Linked DNA regions of Homo sapiens. The protein of the gene in region 2 interacts with the protein of the main gene of each other region in a pairwise test. Each region holds a gene or a part of one and is shown on either strand. Other genes may lie near its edges.

Region 1 (8,149 bases), on a different chromosome or scaffold from region 2:
AGGCATGAGCCACCGTGTCCAGCCTTGATTTTTTCTTTTAAAATTCAAAGTAGCTTTGCTTTATCTGATTCTAAAGTAATGTGGCTAGGCACAGTGGCCCACACCTGTAATCGCAGCACTTTGGAAGGACCAGTTGGGGGATCGCTTGAGCCCAGGAGTTCAAGACCAGCCTGGGCATCATAGTGAGGCCTTGTCTGTACAAAAAAAATTTAAAAAATTAGCCAGACGTGGTGGTGTGTCCCTGAGTTTCAGCTACACAGGAGGCTGAGGCAGGAGAATCATTTGAGCTCAGGAGGTCAAGGCTGCAGTGAGCCTTGTTCATGCTACTGCACTCTAGCCTGGATGACAAAGCCAGACCCTGTCTTAAAAATAAATAATAAATGAATGAATGAATTCATTATTCGTTCTTTATAAATCTTTATAAACTAAAACTTATAAAACTTAAGAACAGACAGATATTCCTTTAATTGGATAAAAAATCTATCTCAGGCCTAAAGGTTACATGATACTTAACTGCAACAGTAGAGATATTCCCTCTGAAATGAATTTAAAGCAGAAGTATTGTTAGATCCTTTATTATTTAGCATTGTTATTGAAGTGCTAGCCAGTACAAGACCTGAAACATAAATAACTATTTATCCCCAAAAATCAGCGAATAGAATTTTCAAATCAAGAAGAAAGTAAAGATCATTTTTAATCTTGTTGTACAGAGATAATGTTAAATTTTTATTCTTCCAAACTTTTAAATTCCCTGTCCCTCTCTTCTATATATGGGCATATTGTATGTGTGCTTTCTTTAATATAAAAGTGTTGTCATACCTGACACACTATTTTTGAAGCTGCTGGACTCTATATAATCTTAGTATCTTTCTTAGTTAGTTAATATAGATAAACATAATCATTTTTAATGATTGCATAGTCATCCATATGTCATTATCCATTTACCAAATCTTCTATTAATAAACATTTAGGATTTTTTTAGTTTATCTATCTTTGTATACTTGTCAAATAATTTCTTTAGGGTAAATTACTAGAAATGGAATTACTGGGTCAAAGGATTTATGTATCTCAAGTCTTTTCCCAAATTGTGATACAGAAAGCTTATGTCAGTTTAGTGCTATGAGCAGTTGCATTACAGCTGTACCAATGCTGGGTTTTACTAGGTATTACCAATCTTTTTATTCTTTGTCAACCTGATAGGCTATAAATTATCTCACTATTTTATTTTGCATTTCATTGATTTTGTATATGGTGTCTTTACTTTACATGAATTTTCAAATTTTATCTCCAATTTATTTATCTTTCCCCTTAACAGTCTTCTAAATTTTGGGCCATTCTTAGCAAGGTCACACTATTGCAAAATTATTATTTTTCTATTAGTTATATTTTCTTTAGTACTTATGATTGTATTATTTGTTTGCTTTTTACATTTTAAATAATTTAGCAATTTAGAATTTGACTGCAAGATGTAAAGTAGGAACTTAAATTTCATATATTAAAATGGTCCAGCCGGTTGTCCTAACACATTTTGAATAATTCATCATTTCTCCATTGATCTGAAAAGCTACTTTTATTATATACTGAATTTCCATATACACATGGGACTGTTTTAGGATGACTTTTTATTATGATTAGGTAGATCTGAAGACTCCCATTACAATATATTGTATTAAGTCCAGAAATGTGCTTAATTCTTAAACTTACAAATGAAAAAAAATTAATAGTATAAATGTTTATAGCTAAATATGGTCATACTCAGAGATGTTATTTTATTTTTTCTGTTTTGGTTTTAGTGGAGAAAGTAGCAAATGAAAGCCAGAAGACCCCCAGGGATGTGGTTATGATGGAAAACTTTCACCATATTTTTGCAACTCTTTCTCGATTGAAAATCTCATGTCTAGAAGCAGAAAAAAAAGAAGCCAAACAAAAATACACAGATCACCTTCAGTCTTATGTCATTTACTCTTTAGGACAACCTCTTGAAAAACTAAATGTAAATATATTTTCATTCAGTATTTTTCCTACTTTTGAACCTATACACATAAGTTTGCATATGAATAACCTGCAGACATTTATCTTAAATTTTCTCATGTGTTGGTGCACAGGGGACTCAGTTATTGAAGCTGCCAGTGTGCCAGACACTGCTAGATGCTATATATTTTATTTCTTCTTTCTGTACATTATTTTTATACATTATTTATCTACTATATTTTAATGATAATTGTACTAGTATTCTATTATGCATTATTTCTTTTAATTCTTATAAACAATGATGTGTAAGCTAAGATAATATTATCCCCATTTCACAAATGAAGAAACTGAAAGTAAAAAAACTTGCCCGACATCATAATAGCTTATAAATTACAAAGCTGGGGGATGAACCTAGATTAGGCTTTGCCGTTACTCTTTCCCATTTCTTACTTTATAAATGACCAAGTTTACAATGTCTAGGTGGAAATTTCAAAAATATTATTAAGATAAAAGAAAAACCAAAAATTGCTTTCTACATTGCCTTTTACTTTTCTTTCCCTTCTTTTTTTTTCCTTACTTGAGTCATTTCCCAGAGTAAGTCTGTTAATTAAAGTTAAGAAATGATGATTTTAGGGAACTTTACAAGATAGTGAAAGCTTAAATGAACCTTTTAAACTAACTTTGTCTGCAATATAGTTATCTTTTATAAGCTCTTAACTTGAAGTTAGAGTAAAATAGCGCGGTGACTCACACCTGTAATCCCAGCACTTTGGGAGGCCAAGGCAGGCGGATCACGAGGTCAGAAGATCGAGACCATCCTAGCTAACAAGGTGAAACCCCGTCTTTACTAAAAATGTAAAAAAAAATTAACTGGGCGTGGTGGCACGCTCCTGTAGTCCTAGCTACTTGGGAGGCTGAGGCAGGAGAATCACTTGATCCTAGGAGGTGGTGGTTGCAATGAGTGGAGATCACACCACTGCGCTCCAGCCTGGGCGACAGAGCAAGACTCAGTCTCAAAACAAAACAAAAAAAAAGAATATGTATCTGCTGTCAACAATTCAAAGAAATACTTGAAAGACATTTAATCAAATGCAGAACTAATTCCTTATAAAACTTAAGAACAGACAAATATTCCTTTAACTGGATAAAAGATCTATCTCAGGCCTAAAGCTTACATGATACTTAACTGCAACGTTAGAGACATTCCCTCTGAAATCAATTTAAAGCAGAAATATTGTTAGATCCTTTATTATTTAGCATTGTTGTTGAAGCACTAGCCAGTTCAACAAGACCTGAAACATAAATAAGAGATATGGAAAACAGAGACGAGATTATCACCACCTGTATATGATATGTTGAAATTACTGGTGTTGGTCAAGTGACAAAATTTAAAGCAAATATACTGAAAAACAATGTATTTCCTGTCTACCAATTAAGAGCTTATGTAAAAACAAAATTTTTAAAGCACTAAGAATAACTTCTCAAAGAATGATAATTTAATGAATAATCACTAAGAAAATTTTAGAAAAAAGTAATGAGAGGGAATGGGGTTTGTCAGCATTAATTCTTTGTATCGTGCTCAAATACAGTTATGCCAGTCAATAAAAGTATATATATAAAAGAAGACCTGGGAATAATAGTTACAATAATATAACAGAGTCAGTATATTTAATATAAAAAATCTTACTAAAATCAATAAGAAAAGCACTAAGACCCCAATTTATAAATGGGGCAAGGGGCTGAATCACTACTAAACATATAAAAGCAGGTTAACCTTATTTATAGCCAAAGAATTATAAAATAAAATGACAAACTTTTTTTACTCTGGCAACTATTGTTATAAATTGTCATAATGCTTATGATGGTATAGTGAAGTAGCAACCTCATACACTGTTGACAGAAATATAAATTGGTTGAGCTTTCCTAGGAAGCAGTTTGTATATATACTGAAGAATCTTTCAAATACTTAAAGTTATGCTCTTCAACAGAGTAATTATAGTCCTGGAAATTTAATCAGTAAGATGGGTAAATACTTATATACAAAAAAAATTTATGACAAATATATTTATAGTAGATTTTCTAAAGTCTCACTAGATTTGCCAAGTCCAAAAAAAGAAGGGGGAGTGGGATGTTAAATATCTAGTACTAGAGGAATGAATAATAATTGTGGTTCAGTCATTGTGTGAAATATTATGCAGCCATTAAAATTTATATTTAGGAAAAAACAATATTAAATGTAAAGTGGGACATGAAATTTTAATCTCCTGTATGTATTCACACATCAAAAGATTACAAGGAACTCTACAATATTAACAATGTTCATCTCAGAAGTATGTTAATAAGTGATTGTTATTTTATTGTTTATACTTTCACACACTGATTTTTGCATGGTGATTATACACTACTTTGTAATCAGATTTTTTTAATGTAAATAATAATAAATGCAGGTCTTAGCCATTGTTTCTTTTCATTTCCTTGAAGCATTTCTTTGAAGGTGTTGAAGCTCGCGTGGCACAGGGCATAAGGGAGGAGGAAGTAAGTTACCAACTTGCATTTAACAAACAAGAACTTCGTAAAGTCATTAAGGAGTACCCTGGAAAGGAAGTAAAAAAAGGTCTAGATAACCTCTACAAGAAAGTTGATAAACATTTATGTGAAGAAGAGAACTTACTTCAGGTATGCTTACTTCTTTTGACCATCTGACTTAAAGATCCTTACATATATTGCTTTTCTTTAAATAATTTTCTAGAAATGCTACAGATCTAGAGCAGGAGGAGAGTTCCATTAGAGTACAGACCAGATTAATGAATTGTGAGGAAGAAAGGAATACTGTTTATATAAGCATATATGGCTATTTCTGCTTATTTCGTATTTCTGCTATATTATGGTGAGGCATTAAGTTTGTTTTTCTTTGGTTGGTTGGTTGGTTGGTTGGTTGGTTGGTTGAGTGGTTGGAATTAGAGATGGGTTCATAATCTGGCTCCAGATTAAGCTGTGTGACTTTGGGAAGTTACTTAACCTCTCTGAGCCTTAGTTTCCTTATTTGATAAGTGGAAACGATACATCTCTTGTACAGTAGCCACTGTATTGGGCAACATAGCAAGACCTTGTCTCTACTAAAAATTAAAAAAATTAGCTGGGCATGGTGGCACGTGCCTGTAGTCCCAGCTACTCGGGAAGCTGAGGCAGGAGGATCACTTGAGCCCAGGAGATTGAGGCTCCAGTGAACTATGATCCTACCACTGCACTCCAGCCTACGCAACAGAGTGAGGCCGTGTCTCAATTAAAAAAAAAAAAAAAAAGAAAGAAAGAAAGAAAAAGAAAGAAAGAGAAAGAAAGAAAATCAGCTTAGAGAGGTGGAGTAATAGGACCAAGCTCTCTTAACTAATGGGTAGTGGAGCCAGATTTAAAGTCCAAATTAGGCCATTATTCTTTATAAACCATATTGAAAGGCCCAGATATGAGTGAGAGTAATTCTGATTTCAACATCATGGAAGACTTCCTGAGGGATATTGCATTGTTTGTTTTAACCTCTGAAAGTCAGATGTACTTGAACAGGCAAAGTGGGGATGGAGGGAGTAGCATTCTAGAAAGAAATAATATGAGCTAAACGATGAAAAGTAAAAAGCATAACACTGCTTAGGGAATAGCGATTGGTCTTAAGTTGGCAGGAATTTAGGATTTATGAGATTTAGGATTTACAAGAAAAAATCTTGGAAGAATACATTCCCTCAGCTGTCAAATAGGGAAGATGATCATAATACCCACCCTCACCAGGTCATCATGAGACTTAATACTATAATATATTCATAAAGTGCTTTGTACTGTGCTGATAAAGAGTAAGCTTCAATTAATGTAATCTATTTAAGCCATTATGTCAATGTGTGTATCACATTGTGTCTTGGTAATTGTCTACATATTAGCCTCCACTGTTAGATTATAAATCACATGATTGCAGATAATGGGTCTGAGTCATTTTGCTGTCCTCCAAGGCATCAAGCAAGGTTTTGCATCAACAATTTTAGATAAAGAAAACTTTAAATGTTATAGGAAATGAAATTAAAGCATTACATTTTATGTAATCACTAGTCTTAGTTCTATACATAATTGTGCATATCCACATCTGTGTTGCATATTGGAGTATATAAGATAATAGCTAAAATGTCATGAGTGCTTACTTGTGTCAAACGCAGTTTGAAGCACTTTATGTACATTTCTTATTTAATTCTCACAGCATTATGAGGAAGGTCTTATTATTATCTTGGTTTATAGATGAGGAACTTGAGGCATAGAGCAGTGATGTCATGTACTGAAGGTTACAAATCTTGTAGGTAAAAGTGACTGGGATTCTGGTTTCAGAATGCATGTTCCTAGCTACTATACTACCCAAATTCTTAGAATATGCCTTGGCATTATTTCTGCATACTAGATTACATATTATTTCCATTCATAGCCTAATGACTTTTTTTTTTAATAATAGGTGGTGTGGCACTCCATGCAAGATGAATTTATACGCCAGTATAAGCACTTTGAAGGTTTGATAGCTCGCTGTTATCCTGGATCTGGTGTTACAATGGAATTCACTATTCAGGACATTCTGGATTATTGTTCCAGCATTGCACAGTCCCACTAAACCTTGTGAAAGAAGAAAAGATAACTGAATGAAGCATTTGAGTATAACAGACACTATACCAAAATACCAAGCAACTGTTTTGAGAACCCAGACTTAAAATTTTATGTATTATTAAATGTTAGATAAATGGGTAGTACCATACTACAAATATTTAAATGCAAAATTACCAACCTATATAGCAGTTTTATTTGCCCTATAGGTTGCATACTAACTTAAGCATTCATGTCACCATAAAATGCCTTTAGCATTTCTCAATGACTGGATGGGAAATTTTCCTTTATTGCCTAGCTGCTTGTGTTTGAGTGGTTGTCCTATGAGCAATGCATTTGGAGTTCTTCAGCTTTCACTACTTCTCTGTTGCTTGCTAATCATGTAACTACTAAAATACTGTACAAAATTGTTTTTTCACACTAACAAATGTGTATATGGAGAAGAGGGCTCATGTGATGATCATTTGTGAACTTAGATTTTTGAGGATTATGTGACTAGTAATAAATGTGAAATAAATTTTCAAAAAAGTTGACATTTGATAATATTTTTAGGTCTATCATATGCTGTCTTCTGTATTAAAGCAAGTTCTTACAAAATCCATATACAAAAATTAATTGCAAGTTTATATACCACAAAACACTTAAAAGTTTAATAATAAGTAAAGTAAGCCGGGTGCAGTGGTTCATGCCTGTAATTCCAGCACTCTAGGAGGCCAAGGAGGGAGGACTGATTGAGGCCAGGAATTTGAGACTAGTCTGGGCGACACAGTGAGACCCTGTCTCCATAGAAGAACAATTTTTTGTGGTGGCACATGCCTATAATCTAAGCCACTTGAGAAGCTGAGGCAGGAGGATTGCCCCAGCCCAAGAGTTTGAGTGAGTTGTGATTGTGCCACTGTACTCCATCCTGGGCAACATAGCAAGATATTGTCACTTGAAAAAAAAATAAGAAAAATAATAATATTGAAGATGTTTAGTATTTAGGACTAACTCTAACAAAAGATGTGCTATATCCTGAATTGTGGCCCTACTAACATTTTATGTTGATGCCCTAACCCCCCATGTGGCTGTATTGGAGATAGGGTCTTTAAGGAGACGATTAAGTTTAAATGAGGTCAGAAGAGTAGGAACCCTGATCCAATAGACTCAATGCCCTTGTAAGAAGAGGAAGAGACAGCAGAGCTCACTCTCCCTCTGCTGTGGGAGGGCACAATGAGAAGGCAGCTGTCTGCAAACCAGGAAGAGAGCCCTCACCAGAACCTGACCATGCTGGCACCATGATCTCAGACTTCCAGCCTCCAAAACTGAGAAAATAGTTTGGCAGCCCAAGCTAATACAAGATGTATAAGACATTTATGGAGAAATTAGAACTACTGAAAGATATTAAAGAAAACCAAAATAAGTGAAGAAGTATTTAATGTTTCCAGATAAGAACACATATACTAAAGTAGAAATGGCAGTCCTTTTTGTTTTGTTTTGTTTTGTTTGTTTTTTTTTGAGAGAGACAGGATCTCTCAGCTCTGTTACCCAGGCTGGAGTGCAGTGGTGTGATGAT
Region 2 (8,210 bases):
GGTAGACCCCCAAAATCAGTTTCAAGAGTGTGAGATAAGAGGCCTACAAATCACTCTGTCCTTTACAAACTCCCTCCTCATTCTCTGCATTTGCCTAGGATATTCACTCTATATGGAATATCTTTTTCCTAGCTGATTCTACCTGTTCAAATTTTACCGACTACCTGAAGCCATTTTTGATTACTCTGTTATTTGCCTCATCTAAACTCTCGGATCATTTATTCTATGATATGCAGTTTAGCACTTTATAACATGTGGTAGTCTTATGCCAGTCTAATTATTGTCAAAGATGTCAATCCTTTGTTCTAACTCACATAGGAGACTTTTTGTTTTTTTTTTTGTTTGTTTTTTTTTGTTTTGAGAGCTGGAGTCTCGCTCTGTCACCCAGGCTGGAGTGCAGTGGTGCGATCTTGGCTCACTGCAACCTCCACCTTTGTGTTCAAGCAATTCTCCTTCCTCAGCCTCCTGAGTAGCTGGGATTACAGGCATGTGCCACCATGCCCGGCTAATGTTTGTATTTTAGTAGAGATGGGGTTGGTTGGCCAGGCTGGTCTTGAACTCCTGATCTCAAGTGATACGCCCATCTCGGTCTCCCAAAGTGCTGGGATTATAAGCGTGAGCCATGGCACCCAGCCTCACATAGGAAACTTCTTAGAGCAACTTAAAGTTGTTCAACTATGTTATACGTCTTTCTTATGTTTTACTAAGTCTAGTACAGTAAAACATATACAATTAATTATTATTAAAATCACCTTAAGAAATACTAAAAACAAGGCCAGAATATAAGAAATAAAATATTGAGAGCCTATTAACAAACTCAGCTTGTGAGTGATTTCAGGGAATGGAAAGTTGAGTCAAAAAAAAATAGGAAAGATTTTAACAGCTTTCTGTGGATTTTATTATAGATTTTATGTGGAGTAATCCACAGAATATGTAAGACTAGTAGGTACTAGGCACTCAAAAAATGTTTATCATACATATACTTCTGAATAGTTGTCAAGAAAAAAGCAATTTTAAACATGGCTTACGTTACACAGAAATTACCTGGTTTAAGGGCCATCATGTGACCTGAGAAGTTTTGACAGTTTGATCTATACAGACTATGAATGCTAAACTCTTCTACCACATTATAATCCTTTGTCTATCCTTAATAGATATTCAAGTCCTCAAACATACCTTACCCTATGCCTGCACCTTTTGAATGTTCTCATTAAACCAAGGGAAGTCTTGGAACCTCCTTATTAGTCTGCCTTGCCAAGCTGAAGGTATGTAACAATACATATCTATAGTGCAGATAAAACAAGAATATACTAGAATGTGTCTGCTCTGAAAAAGCATCCCAGCTCAAATAAGTTTAGAAAACAATAAATCAAAGCTAAACAACTCTTGTAATGAAAGGACTTCTCAGAGCCCCTAATTTGCTGATCCATACTAAGGGTATTGGTATTTAAAATTATTTACCTGTAAAGAACTTTTTTCCAAGACACACTAAGCAGAGAAAAGCAATAACCTCTACACATATTGGTTCCAATTTCTTGCTCTGGCTCATAAGTATATTCTTTCAAAACTACCCATATAATCACAGAAAAATGTTGTACACCCACACATAAATGTGTACATATTACCAGATGCAAAAGTTTCAAACCAATAATCTGAACTCTAAACATAAGTAACATAAGTAAACATAAACAACTCTAAAACATTAAGGTAGCTCCATATCCTCTGATTGACACATCAATACCTCCTCTTGGATCGTTCTCTGCTCCTATCTCTAGAACTGTGCCGACTTCTCTGGTGGCTACGGCTGCGGCTACGGCTGCTGGAGCGGGACCTGTGGCGATGGCGTTTCTCCCGAGATTTGGATCGAGTTCTCCTCTTGCGTTCACGTGACATGGAGCGAGATCGATGTCTGCGATGCTCTCTGGACCTGGATCTACCAGACAAGATTTGATTTTGTTTCTACCTTTGTAATTACTATATTTCTCATTTATTAAAGCCTTTTCTTTAAAGAGAAACTTTTTTTCAGTAGTCTTAATGTCAATTATATTCCAAGTCAGCTAAATCTACACTGAATTGCTGGTGTGTTAATAACTACATACTAGAATTCAAAATAAAACATTAATAATTCTCAGCCAGGCGCCGTGGCTCACACCTGTAATCCCAACACTTTGGGAGTCTGAGGCAGGAGGATCGCTTGAGCTCAGGATTTCAAGACCAGCCTAGGCAACATGGCGAAACTCTGTCTCTATAAAACATACAAAAATTAGCTGGACACAGAGGCACATGCCTGTAGTCCCAGCTACTCAGGAAGCTGAGGTGAGAGAATCTCTTGAGCCAGGGAGGTCAAGGCTGCTGCAATGACCTGGTGATCACATCGCTGCAGTCCAGCCTGGGCAAAAGAGTGAAATTCTGTCTCAAAAACAAGACACTGATTGATAATTCTCAGAGAGCAATCAGTAATGTATAAATTTATTATCAGAAATAGTTTTTCAAGTGAAAGCAACTTTTGAACCACTACTATATGCCAGGGGCTATATTATCTAGATTTGTTATGAATTTAATTGCACTTAAATATCTTGAACATTTTTGTATCCTCTAGAAATTAAATATGTACCTGACAGACCTGGACAGAAGGGAAGAGAAGAGATGAGGAAGAATACGTCAGGACAAATTACTCTTTGTCTGAATTAGAAAGGTGAGATAACCATAGAAGTAAGTTTTTAATGCCCACAATATGCATGTCTAGTCACAGTGTAATCAAAACAGAGTAAGGGCCAGGGGTAGTAGCTCACGCCTTTAATCCCAGCACTTTGGGAGGCTAAGGAAGGATGATCACCCAAGCCCAGGAAGTCAAGGCTACAGGGAGCTGTGTTCACACCACTGCATTCCAGCCTGGGCAATAGAGAGCAAGACAAAACAAACACAGTAAGACAGTTCTCTATTCAAGGAGCAAACAGTTTGGGAGAAAGAACACTTGCGAAAATCATTTTTGAGAACTTGACTCAGATTGCAAAAAAAATGTATTTCTAATGAATACACAGAAATAGAGAACGAAAAACATTCTGAAAAACCAGAAAATATACGATCAAGGTGCTGGCAAAATAAAGACATTTTTTGAAAAGAAAAAAACCCACAAGGTAAGACACTTTTATAGCCTCCACCAGGTCACAAACTAACTTGTGGGGTGGGTGGGGGTGCATGGTGAGGGTGGAAATGGCATGGAGAGGACATAAACGTTTGACAGAAAACAAGGGGAAACAAAGGAATGCAACTTTGTTAGAAGAGTCACTTTAAGAATGATGGAAATGTTCTCAACTGGATTATGGTGATAGTTGCACAGCTTTAAATCTGCTAAAAAATCACTGACTTCAGAGTAAATCATATATATATATATATATATATATATATATATATATATATATATATATATTTTATACCTCAATAAAACTCTTAAATTTAAGTCACTTTAAGAATGTGAGGTTTGCTCATAATTTGATACAGCAAGTTCAAAATCATATTATACATATGAGATAGTTTACAAATACAGTTTATCTTCAACTGATTGTTATGAACGATGCTAAAAGGCATTCAGCTTATGTCAACATTATAGTCAAAGAAAGGTACATGACATGGACGTAGCTTTAGCCACACTTAAAAAGAGTATTTCTGGCTGGGCACAATAGCTTGTGTCTGTAATCCCAGCACTTGGGGAGGCCACAATGGGAGGACTGCTTAATCCTTAAACGGGAGGAGTTCAAGACCAGCCTGAGCAACATAGGGAGACCCCGTATCTACAATAAATTTTTAAAAATTAGCTGGACATGGTGGCACACGCCTGTGGTCCCAGCTACTCAGGACAGAGTGAGACCCTGTCTCAAAAAAAAAAAAAAAAAAAAAGCGTTATTTCCACAGCTGAAAAGAGTAATTCCAAAAGGAAGCAGAGGGAAAAAATATAAAACTCTCAGTGTAAGTTTTATCAAATCATACTTCGTTTAACCACTCATTTTGAGTTATTATGAATGCCATTTCTTCCAATGTATAACTTTATTCATCTTTTTAAAAATTCTAGGTAATTTTTTCATCCAAAAAATATTCACTAGGTATTTTTGCACTGTTCTATACTAGGGGAGGTTGAGTAGCAAGTAAAACAAAGTTCCTGCACTAAACTTAGTGCTTATACTATAGAAAGGGATCTATACAGGTTTGTAGGCAGTAAATAAAGATATGTCAGGTGGTTAAGAAAAAAAAAAAAGATCTATTGCTGGACATGGTGACTCATGCCTGTAATCCCAACACTTTGGAAGGCTGAGGCAGGCGGATCACTTGAGGTCAGGAGTTCAAGACCAGCCTGGCCAACATGGTGAAACCCCTACTCTACTAAAAATACAAAAAAAAAAAAAAAAAAAAAAAAAAAAACTTAGCAGGGCATGGTGGCACGTGCCTATAATCCTAGCTACTAGGGAGCCTAAGGTAGAAGAATCACTTGAACCTGGGAGGCGGAGGTTGCAGTGAGCTGGCATTTTGCCACTGCACTCCAGCCTGGGCAACAGAGCAAGACTCCGTCTCAAAAAAAAATTAAAAGATGTTATTACGTAGAGTGGAAAAAGAGAAAAGAGTGGAAATATTTATACGGAATAAGCAGGGAAGGCTTTTCTGATAGGTTGGCACTGAAGCAAAGCTGAAAGAAGAAAGGGAACAAGTGAATCAGTCATCTCAGAGAGGAGTGCTTCAGGCTGAGGGAACACAGATGCAAAGTCCCTGAGGTGGGAAAAAGCTCAGCATGTTGAAGGAAAAGACCAGTGTGGCTGGAATGAAGTGAGCAAAAGGAAGTAATATCAGGGTCTTACAGGCAGGATGACCAGGTACTTTATCATTCAAACTAGAAGGCTCTGAATAAGTTACTGAATGTAATGAGAAGCTATTAATACATATTCTGGGATAAAAGACATAAACCAGAACTATCCCAGGGCAGTTTGGGCTATGCCAAGCTTGTCCAACCTGCGGCCTCCAAGCCGCATGCTGCCCAGGATGGCTTTGAATACAGCCCAACACAAATTTGTAAACTTTCTTAAAATATTATGAGATTTCTTTGCAATTTTTTTTCCAGCTCATCAGTTATCATTAGTGTATCTGATGTGTGGCCCAGGTAAGCCAAAAGATTGGACACCCCAGGCCACACCGTCACCCTATGTAAAAGCTTTGGTAAAGATGTTAACTTCTCATATGAATGAGATGAAAAACCTTTGGAGAATCAGAGGGCTGATGTGATGTATTTCATTTATTTAAAGGCTCATCCTGGCTGACGTGTGAAAAATAGAATGAGGTGAAGAAGGGGGGTGGGCAAGCACAGAGAACTAAGGAGCCCAGTTACAAGGCAAACATATTATCTAGGTAACAGGACTAGAGGAATAGAAATTAAATTTCTGGCCCAAATATCTAAAGATGTTCTATGTGCAATACTTTATGTTTTCAACAAAGGGACCAGCTTATATTAATCAAACAGTAAACAATAACAGTATCACAGTTTAATGTTTCTACTTATCATGCTAGATCAGAGAAATTCACCAATAATATAAATTAGCTGACACAACTGGCCCCACTTATTAATGTTCTTTAGTTTTTTTAGTGTTTTAGGCAGAAATATCATTGATAGATGTTGCTAACAGAACTGTAAGGTTTTTGTTTTTCTTTTTTTGAGACAGTCTTACTCTGTCACCCAAGCTGGAATGCAGTGGCACAATCTCGGCTTACTGTAACCTCCACCTCCTGGGTTCAAGTGATTCTCCTGCCTCAGCCTCTCAAGTAGCTGGGATTACAGGCACCTGCCACCACACCCGGCTAATTTTTGTGTTTTTAGTAGAGATGGAGTTTCGCCATGTTGGCCAGGCTGGTCTCGAACTCCTGACTTCAGGTGATCTGGCTGCCTCGGCCTCCCAAAGAGCTGTGATGGTATAAGCGTGAGGCACTGCGCTCAGCCAGGTTTTTCTTTCATAACAACAAATTCTCTACTTTTTAGGGAAAACTTCTTGGGAAATAGTCTCTAGAGCTGAGAACTCAGAAAGTTTCTAAAAGAAGATGTGATCTGAACAAGAGGAATGGTAGAATTTGGAAAAGACTGAGAAAGGGCATTCTAGGTGGGAATGGATCCATGAAGAAAGCTCAACGACTGGAATGAGAAGGGCAAGTGAAGAACTGAGAAAGAATGATGAAGTACAACACATTTCCCTGCCTTTCTCAGACAAAAAAATGTATCAGCAACTAGCAAAAACTACAAAGAAAGGTTTCAAACCCCAAATATTAACGCTGAAAGTCAAAACAAAGTATTGTCTTGCTCTTTTAAGGCTGCAAATGCCTCTCTGAAAGCCTTCTGTGATCACTGTATAAAGGAATGGGTAATAAACTCACATAAAGTCAAGACTGGAGGGTATACTAAACATTTTGGTTTTGCTTAACCCACAGTGGATCAATCAAAATTTTATCCAACTATTAACCTACTAATGTTTTCAACAGCTACAACCTCTTAGAACATGTTTCCTAAATGTACCACCCAAATTGATTTTTAAAAAATTAATCCTTTTACGTATCTACTCTGAGCATCTAAATGATTTCAAAAAAAATTTTCTTTTTTTTTTTTTTTTTTTTTTTAAAGACAGAGTCCTATTCTGTTGCCCAGGCTGGAGTGCAGTGGTGCTATCTTGGCTCACTGCAACCTCTGCCTCCCGGCTTCAAGCAATTCTGCCTCAGCCTCTTGAGTAGCTGGGATTACAAGCATGCATCACCGTGCCCAGCCAAAAAAGAAAATTTTTAAAGGACCATTTAATCAATCTATAAAAACTACCTTTGAAAAAGACAACTTCACTACTTATACCTGTCTTATGTAATACACCTACCTTTTTGGATTCTTGCTGTGTGATCGGGACCTAAAAAAAAAAAATATGTATTTTTAGAAAAGTGGCTATAAATAAGAAAACAGTGCAGTGTTACATTATATTCTTCCTGATTTCTAATGTTTACATTAATTTTATAAATACAAGGCGTGTACCTACGCACACAAAATTTTCCAAAAGACACCACAAACTCGACAGATTTCTTCACCTTGCAGGGTTTGCTTAACTCAAGAATACCTGGCTCTTAAAGAATATGTTCCTAGGAGATTAAAACACAGTACAGGTTGAGTACTCCTTCTCCGAAACGCTAAGGATCATAAGTGTTTCGGATTTTTTCTGTTTTTTGTTTTTGTTTTTTTTTTTTTTAATTTTTACATTTTTTGTTGCCTAGGGTGGTCTTGAACTCCTGGATGCAAATGATCCAACCACCTTGGCCTTCCGAAGTGCTGGGATTACAGGTGGCCGATTTTTTTCAAAATTTGAAGTGTCTGCATTATAATTTACTGGTTCAGCATCCCTAAATCCAGAAACCAAAATCTGAAATGCCCTAATAAGCATCTCCTTTAAATGCTGCCAGCACTCAAGAAGTTTCAGATTTTGAAGCTCACTGGATTTCATTTTTTGGATTTGGGATGCTCAACCTACATATCACAACTTGCTAATTTTCCAGAAACCACTTACCAGCTTGGAAAAAATTCTTTTATATCTGTCATTTCTTTTTTCCCTTCTGGGAAAAGAGTGAAATTTCTATGGTCTGAGATCTACATACTCTTGGAGCTACAACCTCATACTATAATCTCTAGAACACCTAGTTCAATCTTACAATGTGTTTCTTCAAATGAAATGAGATACTCTACTTAAGGCACTTGTCACATTTCCTAGCACACAGGTAACGCTCAATGAAATGTAAAGTGAATATTATGGCTAGTAGGACACCACAGGGATTATTATTTTTTTTTGGATGATATATAGCATTGTTGAAAGCATGACTTTGAGATCAGCCAGATTTGAGTTTTATTTCTGGTTCTACCATTCACTGTCTGTGTGACCTAAGTAAGTTACATATCCTCTCTCAGCTTACTCTGTCACTAGCAAAAGAGGGATACTAATATAAATTTTACTGGGGTGGAGTGGGGGTGGGGTTTATAAAGATTAGATGAATATGGATAAATTCCTTACTACAGTGTCTGGCATACAATAAGCACCCAGTAAATGATTATGATTTTTTTCTTTTATCCCATCTTATATAATTTTATACTAGTTTCTAATTTCCTCATCTTCCATACTTCCATATTTCTTTAAGCTCACAGATTCAACGACTTT
Region 3 (9,100 bases), on a different chromosome or scaffold from region 2:
ATTTATAGACAGGGTCTCACTCTGTTGCCTAGGCTGGAGTGCAGTGGCATAATCTCGGCTCACTGCAACCTCCACCTCGCAGTCTCAAGCAATCTTCCTGCCTCAGCCTCTTAAGTAGATGGTACTACAAGCATGCACCACAACACACAGCTAATTTTTGTATTTTTTGTAGAGATATGGTTTCACCACGTTGCCCAGGCTGGTTTCGAACTCCTGGACTCAAGCAATCTGCCTACCTCGGCCTCCCAAAGTGCTAGGATTACAGATGTGAGCCACTGGGCCCAGCTGAATGGGTTCACTTCACTTTCTATAGTAAAAGTAAGATCCCATCAGTGAGCCTGGGGGGAAAAAAAGACAGGTGGGTGGGAGTGTGTGTGTTTGTGCTGTTTGTTGGAACAGACCTGTCAGGGCATCCAAGTCTTATCAAGTGGTAAGACAGTCTATCGAGTGTGATGGAAGGTGACAGAGACCTGGCAGAGGCATTCATAGGAAAAAGAAAGAACCCTGTTCCTGTTTAGGTGAAGCTGGAAACCATCAATCTTTAGTGGTACAATCTGTATTGTTTTGTGATTTTTCTTTGACAGCATTTTTATTATTCGCATGAAGGAGTAAAGGAGCAGGACTATAGTAGTTATTGAGTGGCTGAGGCAGAATGATTGGGGTACAAATAGCCAAAGATGTTGGTGAGAGAAAGTTCAAATAGTTAAGAATAGGGTATAAACTGGAGAGGAAAGGAGAGGCAAGGTGGGTGCTAGGATAAAATGGGAGGGTTGAAGGGTAGAGATATTTATGAGGAAAAAAAGGCAGGTATAAGGGGACATGAGAGACCTTCCTTTTTTTTTTTTTTTTAAATTCCATTTCTATTTGAACTCTCAAAAGAGAAAAAGAGATTGAAATGACAGAACTTTAGCTAATTTTAATTAAATAAACTTCATAAGGTTTTGTTGTTTTATAACCTTTAGAGTCAGAAAATTCTGACTCCAGTGAGAAAATGTCTTCAACAGAAAGCCAGATGGCCTCTGAGTATCATGTTCATATTTGAAATTGAAATGTAAATGTTACCACATACTTGCTTATTTTAAGGCTGTGGTCCTTTCATTTGCTTTCTTTCCTTTTTTTCATTTAGTCATGTAAATTTGAGCACCTACTCTGTGCTAGGTATCCAATGGGAAACATTATAGACACAAAGAACATTCCAATTAAACTTATATAAAAGGTACTTTAGTGTTTTTCCAGCTAGCAAACATAATGTTCTTGATTTAGTGTTATAATCTTTATTATGTTCAAAAATAATTCCTCTGTTCCAATTTAAATATATATTATCTAAACATATATATACACACATATGCAAACTAGCAAAAATATATATAAACCAGCACACACACACACACACACACACACACACACACACACACACACACACATTGTTGGATTTTATCAAAGTCTATTGGTCATCTATTAAAATGTTCATTTATAACTTGCCTAATTTTAACTATATATTTAGCCTTTAAGGATCTTTTTTAGTGTTGTATTTCTTTATAGGAAATGTCATTCTAATTCTGGAATAGAGTCTATTTGGTTGTGTTCATTCAAAGTATTGCTGGATTCTATTTATGAATATTTTCTTTGGCATTTGTATCAAAAATTTATACCACATAAAATTTAAAAAATGAGGCCTACAACCATTTTATTAATGAAAATAACAGAAAATACACTCTCAATGAGCCATTTACAATACTTCCCTATTTTCTGATTTAGAGATAAATCAGGGTCGTGTAATAGCAGTTGTGTCCAAGAAAATATAATGTCAAGAGGCCAGAATTAAATCCATACAGAAAATGATTGTGTTCATTTCAGAGTAACCTTTAAGAGGGCAATTTTGGGGAGCAGCAAGGGCAAAAGCCAAACTGAATGGGGTTAATAATGAATAGATGAGAGGAACTAGAAGCAGCTATTGCAAGCTACCATTTTGAGAACCTGCCCAAAGAAAGAAAAGACTGAAGGGATGGAAGATTGCAGAAAGCATGATCGGAGAAGAGATATTTTACTTTTAGTGAAGCTCTATACACATTTGTCTTCCTCACTAGATTTGTATCCCTAGAACCTAGAACAGAGTCAGCCAAAGAGCAGGCACTCAATACAAATTGTTGACTTGCTGCTAAAATTGTAACAGAGTACAAAGAACATCCTAGAAATTGGAGACAAAGGGGATAAGAAAACAGAGTTAACTTGGAAAGAGAAGACACTCATCTCTGACAAGACTGAAGATGATTACACAACACCATCATTGCCAACCAAGTCCTTTGGGAATACAAAGGTTAAATCCTAATCATCACAACAGTCTCTAAAGGAATAAACCTGATTTACAGATTTTGATAACAAAATACTTCTCCTCTTTCCATTTTCTACAATGCAACCAACAGCAACATCAAAGGTAGGCTTAACCAACTCTTCGAGAAAAGTCAGAGTTAATCCAGATTGTAAAGCGTCCAGGTCCCCTGTTTCTCATTTCCTCTTTTCTGTCGCTCTGACAACAGACTGGGCAGAGATGGAAAACAAAACAACTTACCAAACTGTGTAGCCTTTAGCAGCTCTGGTAAATGCATTTAGGGCTGTGTTAGGATAACTGTTAAAACGGACTCTTTAGGATAGCAAAACATTTTACTTATTTGTGTAATTTCTCTCTCCAAGTAGTACGATAAATCAGGAAGTAGTTAATATGTAAGTAAAGAACATAATGGCATAAAAATATCCCCACAGAATACACAGTTGATGTGTTTTAAAATTCACAAAAATTTTACAAAGTTGAAGAATGGGAGTAGGATAACAGGGTGATGGGGGGAAGCAGCCACAGAATTAGATAAAATGGTATAATTTCAGGTCTAAGGTGAGACACGACAGTTGCTAAAGGAAATATCTGCACTAAGATGACTTGCTAGTTTTGATCACCCTGCGTCAAAGGTAATGGGAATCTAATTGGAAAAAGATGGGCCCCGTTTTCAACATCGCTACCCTGGCAGCCACAGGCTGGGAAGGATACAGGTAAGAGCCAGGTCGGTGATGCCCGCCGCTCTCCCGAGGGCCGAGGGGGGCTCTGTCGAGGTTGTCCGATGATTCAGTGCCCAGTTCCCCGACCGCGCTCCGGGTTCCGGGCCTCCCCGCCAGCATCCTTCACTTCAGCGCCGCCTGTCTGCTCGCCCCCAGAACCTCCCTCATGGCAGCTCCGGCTTCCTCCTCCTCCTGCTCGGCCCCTCCCTACACTCCGTCTCTCAGGCCCCGCGTCACGGGCGCGGAAGGGTTGGCCTCGACAGCCCTAGCTCCCGCGCAGCGGCACTGGTGCCTGTAGCGGCGATGGCAGCTGAGGCAGCGGCGACCTCGCCGGGCAATAGCAGATGGGGCGGCAGCAACCCTGCAGCCGCCATCTTGACAACAACCGACGGCGCGTCCTTGACAACGGAAACCTGGGAGGAGCTACAGGTCGGGGCGGGACGATGTGCCCGAAGCAGCCAATCGCAGGCTCCGGCGGCCCCTCCAGCTTCGAGCGGCGGGTGGCAACCCAAGCATCCCTAGGGACCCGGGTTGTTGCGCGAGGGGTGAGCTGAGTGTTGTTTTAGAGCCTGATGCAGTTCTGCCTCCCTTTTTATGAGAGTGTTTTTGTGGCAGTACCGACAGTGACGAAAGACAGATGTAAAATCCTCAGATACAGGCAATTGCCACCGGGAGGAGTCTGCAGTGATTGTCTGGGGGACAATTTGGAGTTGAATTTGTTAAACTACTGAATCCTGTTGTGAGATTTTGAGTTGTGAGTCTTTCTGTGGCATCATCATCCCCAAACACCGTCTCTTTAAAATGTCTTTGTGAAGTGGAAATTTTCCTTCCCTGCATTCTCTCATCCACTCGGTAATGCTTCTGGCATTCCCTCTGCAGTCGTCTTCCTTGCCTTTGCCCTACTTAGAAGGTCTACATTTCAAAGCCTCCTAATGGTTCTCGCATTGCTGCCAGATTCTGGAAATGGACCATCACAGCAAAACTAGCAATCTCTTGGGAAGATATGCCAAAAGAGATCATCGCATTGAAATGGTTTTGGGAAGTATGGAAAATTAAATGGATTTTTGAGACACTAGTTTATTGGCTATGCAAGTGACAGTTTTGAAAAAGGCTGAATCTTATTGTTGGAGCCTAATGTAAATGCATATATAAATTCTGACTGTATTTCAGTCAGTGTTTTCTTGGAAAAATTCCCAGATTGGAAGCAGAAAGTACAGACCAAATAAAGATTATTCACCCACCATTCAAATGTCTCTGCCTTTGTGAATTAATTTGTTCATTTTAAGATTTCAAATAATAAACTTTTCCAGTTGAAACTGTTTAAAACAATCTTTGCAAACTTGGTTGCAATGACTCAAATTGGAATGTACACTGGCGACAGATTTTAAAGTGCCACAACAAATCCAGTTTCGATTTAAGACACAAAACACATGAACTCTCCTTCAGAAGCATACCAACAGGATAAAATATACAATTCTGACATGAAAAGCTAAATGTATACAACTGGACACTTGGCTATCTTGGCAAGTTTTTAATTGGCCTAGCCACAGGCAATGGCCTTGATTCTATTCCCACTGCTGTCATCACACGTTTGTCTCCCCATGGGTGATCTGAGTAAAGTAGGGCAGTGCAAAGTACAGATGAATATGAGAATATTAGAGTTGCTATTTGGAATATTTAGGCATGGTTAGCTTTCCAGAAGTCCAGCTTTTGCTATATTATTAGTTTGCGATCTCGTAAGTCCTAGGCATCTCACTGCTTTGTGGCTTGGTATATTAGCACTAAGAAGCATAATTTGGTTTCTCAATTGCCTATAAATCCTTTCTTACGTTAACTTAAAAAAACACGTAATTTATGAATCTAGAAAGGAGAGGAAAGGGTTACAGCCTGAAAGGAGGGCCATCCCACAAGCTGGGAGTGTGCCTCCAACTGAAGCCTAAAGAGGCAGGTACTTTGAAGGAGGGATGTTGAGGTAGGAGATTTATGCTGAAAAGTTGGCTAAACATACATAATTTATAGGATATAGGAGGAGCTATGAATATTTATGAAGGTAGTTCTGATGCATGTATATTGAACAAACAGTAACATATGACCCATGTTCATTTTGGGCTGGAGACTTAACATTTAATTGCATTACAATTAGGCCCTATTATGTCTAAATTTTTTTTAGGACACAAAGGCACTCAAGTGAGCAGTCCTCTTAAACTGGCCAGAACCACCTCATGGTTGGTGATGTTCTCATCAGGAGAAAGTTATTGAAATCAGTCTGTTGTCCAATCAAAGCTGTAGTTATGGCTTATGGAACAGAGGGTCAGTTAGTCAGTGTCTGGTGGTGAGCTACGATTGTTTTACTATTGCTTATCTCAAGGCCAGTGTTTGTTTAGCTGCTAGAGAAAAACAGAAAACTTGTGGAAGTTAAACATAGTTTATTCTTTAAGTGTAGGAGTGCATGACTTAACCCTTGCCTGGCATGGCCTTAGGTCCTATTTGTAATTTGATATCTTACTGCCACCAAGTGTCTGTTCCGTCAGTCTAATGATCTCTACTTTAACGTTAATCCTGGTCAATTGTGTCCAAACTACAACAGGAAGAGGATATAATGAGGCATAGCTGACCTTCCATCCCATTATGGCTGGGAACTCAGTTTTAAGGTTTTCCCAGGGTCCCCTTGGCCAAGAGGGGGTCTATTCAGTCAGTGGGGGCTTAGGATTTTATTTCAGTTTAGACTTATATAATTATTCTTCATTCAAATATTGTTTTACGGTAACAACCAAGAAGAAAAGAAATTTCAAACAATGTTGCCAGTTTTTTTAATCATAGGTTTTTTCGACCTTTAAATTCTTTCTTTATTTCTTCAAAATATTAAGTGGGTTTTCCACATTCTATTTAAGTTGTAGAATCCTAGATTCTTATAGAAAGGCAGGGCCCAAGGGGCTCTGAACATCATGATGCTTGATTTTGTCATGACTTTTTTGTCAGTGTTATTTATGGAAAAAGGCTTTAGGATTAGATATTTGGATAATAAAAAATTTGAGGATTTTATCAACTTCATCTCTTGACAGGAAAGGCAGTTGTGATTCAAGCAGTAAAGAAGAATGTTACCCTAAAATCCCTATTTTTTATCAGAAGGGGCATCTGAATTAAATACAATGTTATATTCTTTCACACTTTAAAACCATAAAACAATTCCTTCTTTTGCTAAGGAAATATATATTGAGCACCTACTATGTGCCAAGCACTTTCCAGGTGCTAGGGATACAGTGAATAAAACTTCAAAGTCCTTATGTTCGTGAAGCTTATATTTATTTTTCTTCCCCACTAGAACATATTAGGGTAGTGAAAAGTGCTACATGGAAAGTGGGATAGTGAAGGGGGATAGAGACCAATGTCAGTTCTATCTGTGAGAGGGTGCTCAGGAAAGGCCCCAAAGGAAGGGAAATTAGGACAGAGGTCTGAATGAAGGAAAGAGGTTGCCATTCAAATATCTGGATGAAGAATAAGGGCACAGGGGTCTGTGAGTACAGAAGACTGTGAGGACAGAATCATACTGTTGTGCTCAAAGAACAGCACAAGACCACTGTTGCTGGAATAGAGTGAGGTAGGGTGTATTAGGCAGTTCTCGCACTGCTATAAAGAAACACCTGAGAGTCGGTAATTTATAAAGAAAAGAGGTTTTATTGGCTCATGGTTCTGCAGGCTGTACAGAAAGCATGGCAGCATCTGCTTCTGGGGAGGCTTTAGGGAGCTTTTTACTCATGGTAGAAGGAAAAGTGGGAGCAGGCATCTTACATGGCAGGAGCAGGACTGAAAGAGAGAGGGGAGGTGCCACACACTTTTAAAATGACCGGATCTCATGAGAACTCACTTACTATTGTGAGAACAGCATCAGTGGGGATATCTGCCCCCATGATCCAATCACCTTCCATCAGGCCCTACCTCCAACATTGGGGATTACAGTTTGACGTAAGATTTGGGCGGGGAGGCCTGGCATGGTGGCTCACGCCTGTAATCCCAGCACTTTGGGAGGCCAAGACAGGTGGATCACCTGAAGTCAGGAGTTTGAGACCAGCCTGGCCAACATGGTGAAACCCCATCTCTACTAAAAACACAAAAATTAACTGGGCGTGGTGGCAAGCGCCTGTAATCCCTGCTACTTGGGAGGCGGAGGAAGGAGAATCGATTGAAACTGGGAGGCAGAGGTTGCAGTGAGCCGAGATTGTGCAATTGCATTCCAGCCTGGGTGACAGAGCAAGGCTCTGTCTCAAAAAAAAAAAAAAAAAAAAAAAAAAAAAAAAAAAAAAAAAAAAAAAGATTTGGGTAGGGATGCAGGTCCAAACCATATAATAAGGGAAGTGTGCTAACATATGAGATTGTAGAGGTACATGGCCCAGATTTAGTGGCGACTTGTATTGTATGCAAGGACTTAATGTAAAATCCAACTTTCAATGGAGGGAAATCCATTTGAGAGTTTTGATTAGAAGAGTAACACAATTTTATTGAACCTTTAAAGAGACCCTCTAGTTGTTGTGGGGAAAACTAGGTTGTAGGAGATAAGACCAGAAACAATAAGGACAGTTTTAAGGTTACCAGAGATGGCAGACTTGGACTAGGATGGTAGCAGTGGAGGTGGCAAGAAATGTTTACAGTTTGAACCTTGAGCCAATAAGATGTGTTGGTGGATGGTTGCAGTAAGCGAGAGAAAAAAAGTCAAATGTGACTCAGATTTTTGGCTCAAACAATTGGATAAAGTGTGTTGCCATTACTAAGATGGGAAAGAATAGGTAGGGGTGGAATAAGGAATACGAGTTAGGCTTCAAACATGTTAAATGTGAGATGTCTATTAGACATGCAATTTCATTAATGTGGTCTCATAAATCGTTGATGTTTTATTTACAAAGGAAACTAATAATAACCACTTTATGGTTATAAAGCATATTCACATAACTTATCTAATTTGAATATATATATATATATATATATTTTTTTTTTTTTTTGAGACGGAGTTTTGCTCTTGTTGTTCAGGCTGGAGTGCAATGGCATGATCTCGGCTCACCACAACCTCTACCTCCCGGGTTCAAGCAATCCTCCTGCCTCAGGCTCCTGAGTAGCTGGGATTACAGGCATGCGCCACCACGCCCAGCTAATTTTGTATTTTTAGTAGAGACAGGGTTTCTCCTTGTTGGTCAGGCTGGCCTCAAACTCCCAACCTCAGGTAATCCGCCCGCCTCAGCCTCCCAAAGTGCTGGGATTACAGGCGTGAGCCACCGCGCCCAGCCTGAATATTATTTTTAGTATCTTTAGAACAGAAAATAAACAGAATTTATTTGAGCAAAGAATGATTTACGAATTGGGCAGCACCCAGAACAAGAAGTTCAGAGAGCTCCACCCAGCAGCATGAGCAGCAAGATTTTGTTGGACACAGAAACAAAGTAGAGGAATCATGTGATTGCCTACAGCTAGGTGTTTATCTTATTTGGGTATACTCTGATTAGTTGGCTGCCTATGATTGGCTGAAACTCCACTATTTGTTACAAAAAATATACTCCTAAGTCAGGCTGCAGTTTGCTACAGAGGAACTCAAAGTACAGAGACAGCCTCAGGCAATGGCCTCCTGCTTATTTAATTTAACAAGTATTATAACCATGTGGCAGCTGTGATGGACAATTTTTTTGTGCTTTCACTTTTGTCTTGGCTGAGGCTATTTTTTTTTTTCCATCTTCCACTGAAGTATTTTCTTGCTCAAATAAGAATTTCCTGAATTGGTCTCTGGGCAAGATGTGAAAGAACAAAGAATTTTAACATCTGGCTGATTTAAAGTTCTGCCAACTTCTGCTGAAGTTCTGCCATTTTCACTTGAATTTTGTAAGACTTCAACTAGAAATTTAAGATTACAATATGTGTATTTGCCTATTAATATAAATTATAAAAGTCATCAATATTGTCCGCAATGTTACATATCTTTTAATCCATACAACAATTTCCATAATACAAAGGAGGTAATCAAGCTATAGCAATATTAGTAACTTTGTCCAAGATTCCAGGGTAAGGGAGT

What was found.
Region 1: the proteins of LUC7L2 (region 2) and EXOC1 interact in a two-hybrid assay, tested with the Homo sapiens proteins (2 studies listed by BioGRID and IntAct).
Region 3: the proteins of LUC7L2 (region 2) and CEP126 interact in a two-hybrid assay, tested with the Homo sapiens proteins (2 studies listed by BioGRID and IntAct).

The regions. Positions count from the first base shown.
Region 1 is NC_000004.12:55,897,892-55,906,040, forward strand, and holds the end of EXOC1 (exocyst complex component 1), read left to right. Parts: intron 1-1,793; coding exon 1,794-1,993; intron 1,994-2,943; exon of another isoform or gene 2,944-3,263; intron 3,264-4,452; coding exon 4,453-4,647; intron 4,648-6,451; coding exon 6,452-6,604; 3' UTR 6,605-7,195; downstream 7,196-8,149.
Region 2 is NC_000007.14:139,411,261-139,419,470, reverse strand, and holds part of LUC7L2 (putative RNA-binding protein Luc7-like 2), read right to left. Parts: intron 6,921-8,210; coding exon 6,891-6,920; intron 2,010-6,890; exon of another isoform or gene 1,934-2,009; coding exon 1,742-1,933; intron 1-1,741. Other genes in the region: FMC1-LUC7L2 readthrough protein, read right to left, coding at 1,742-1,933, 6,891-6,920. UniProt on the Homo sapiens protein: May bind to RNA via its Arg/Ser-rich domain.
Region 3 is NC_000011.10:101,909,353-101,918,452, reverse strand, and holds the start of CEP126 (centrosomal protein of 126 kDa), read right to left. Parts: upstream 3,444-9,100; 5' UTR 3,169-3,443; coding exon 3,041-3,168; intron 2,435-3,040; exon of another isoform or gene 1,931-2,434; intron 1-1,930. UniProt on the Homo sapiens protein: Participates in cytokinesis. Necessary for microtubules and mitotic spindle organization. Involved in primary cilium formation.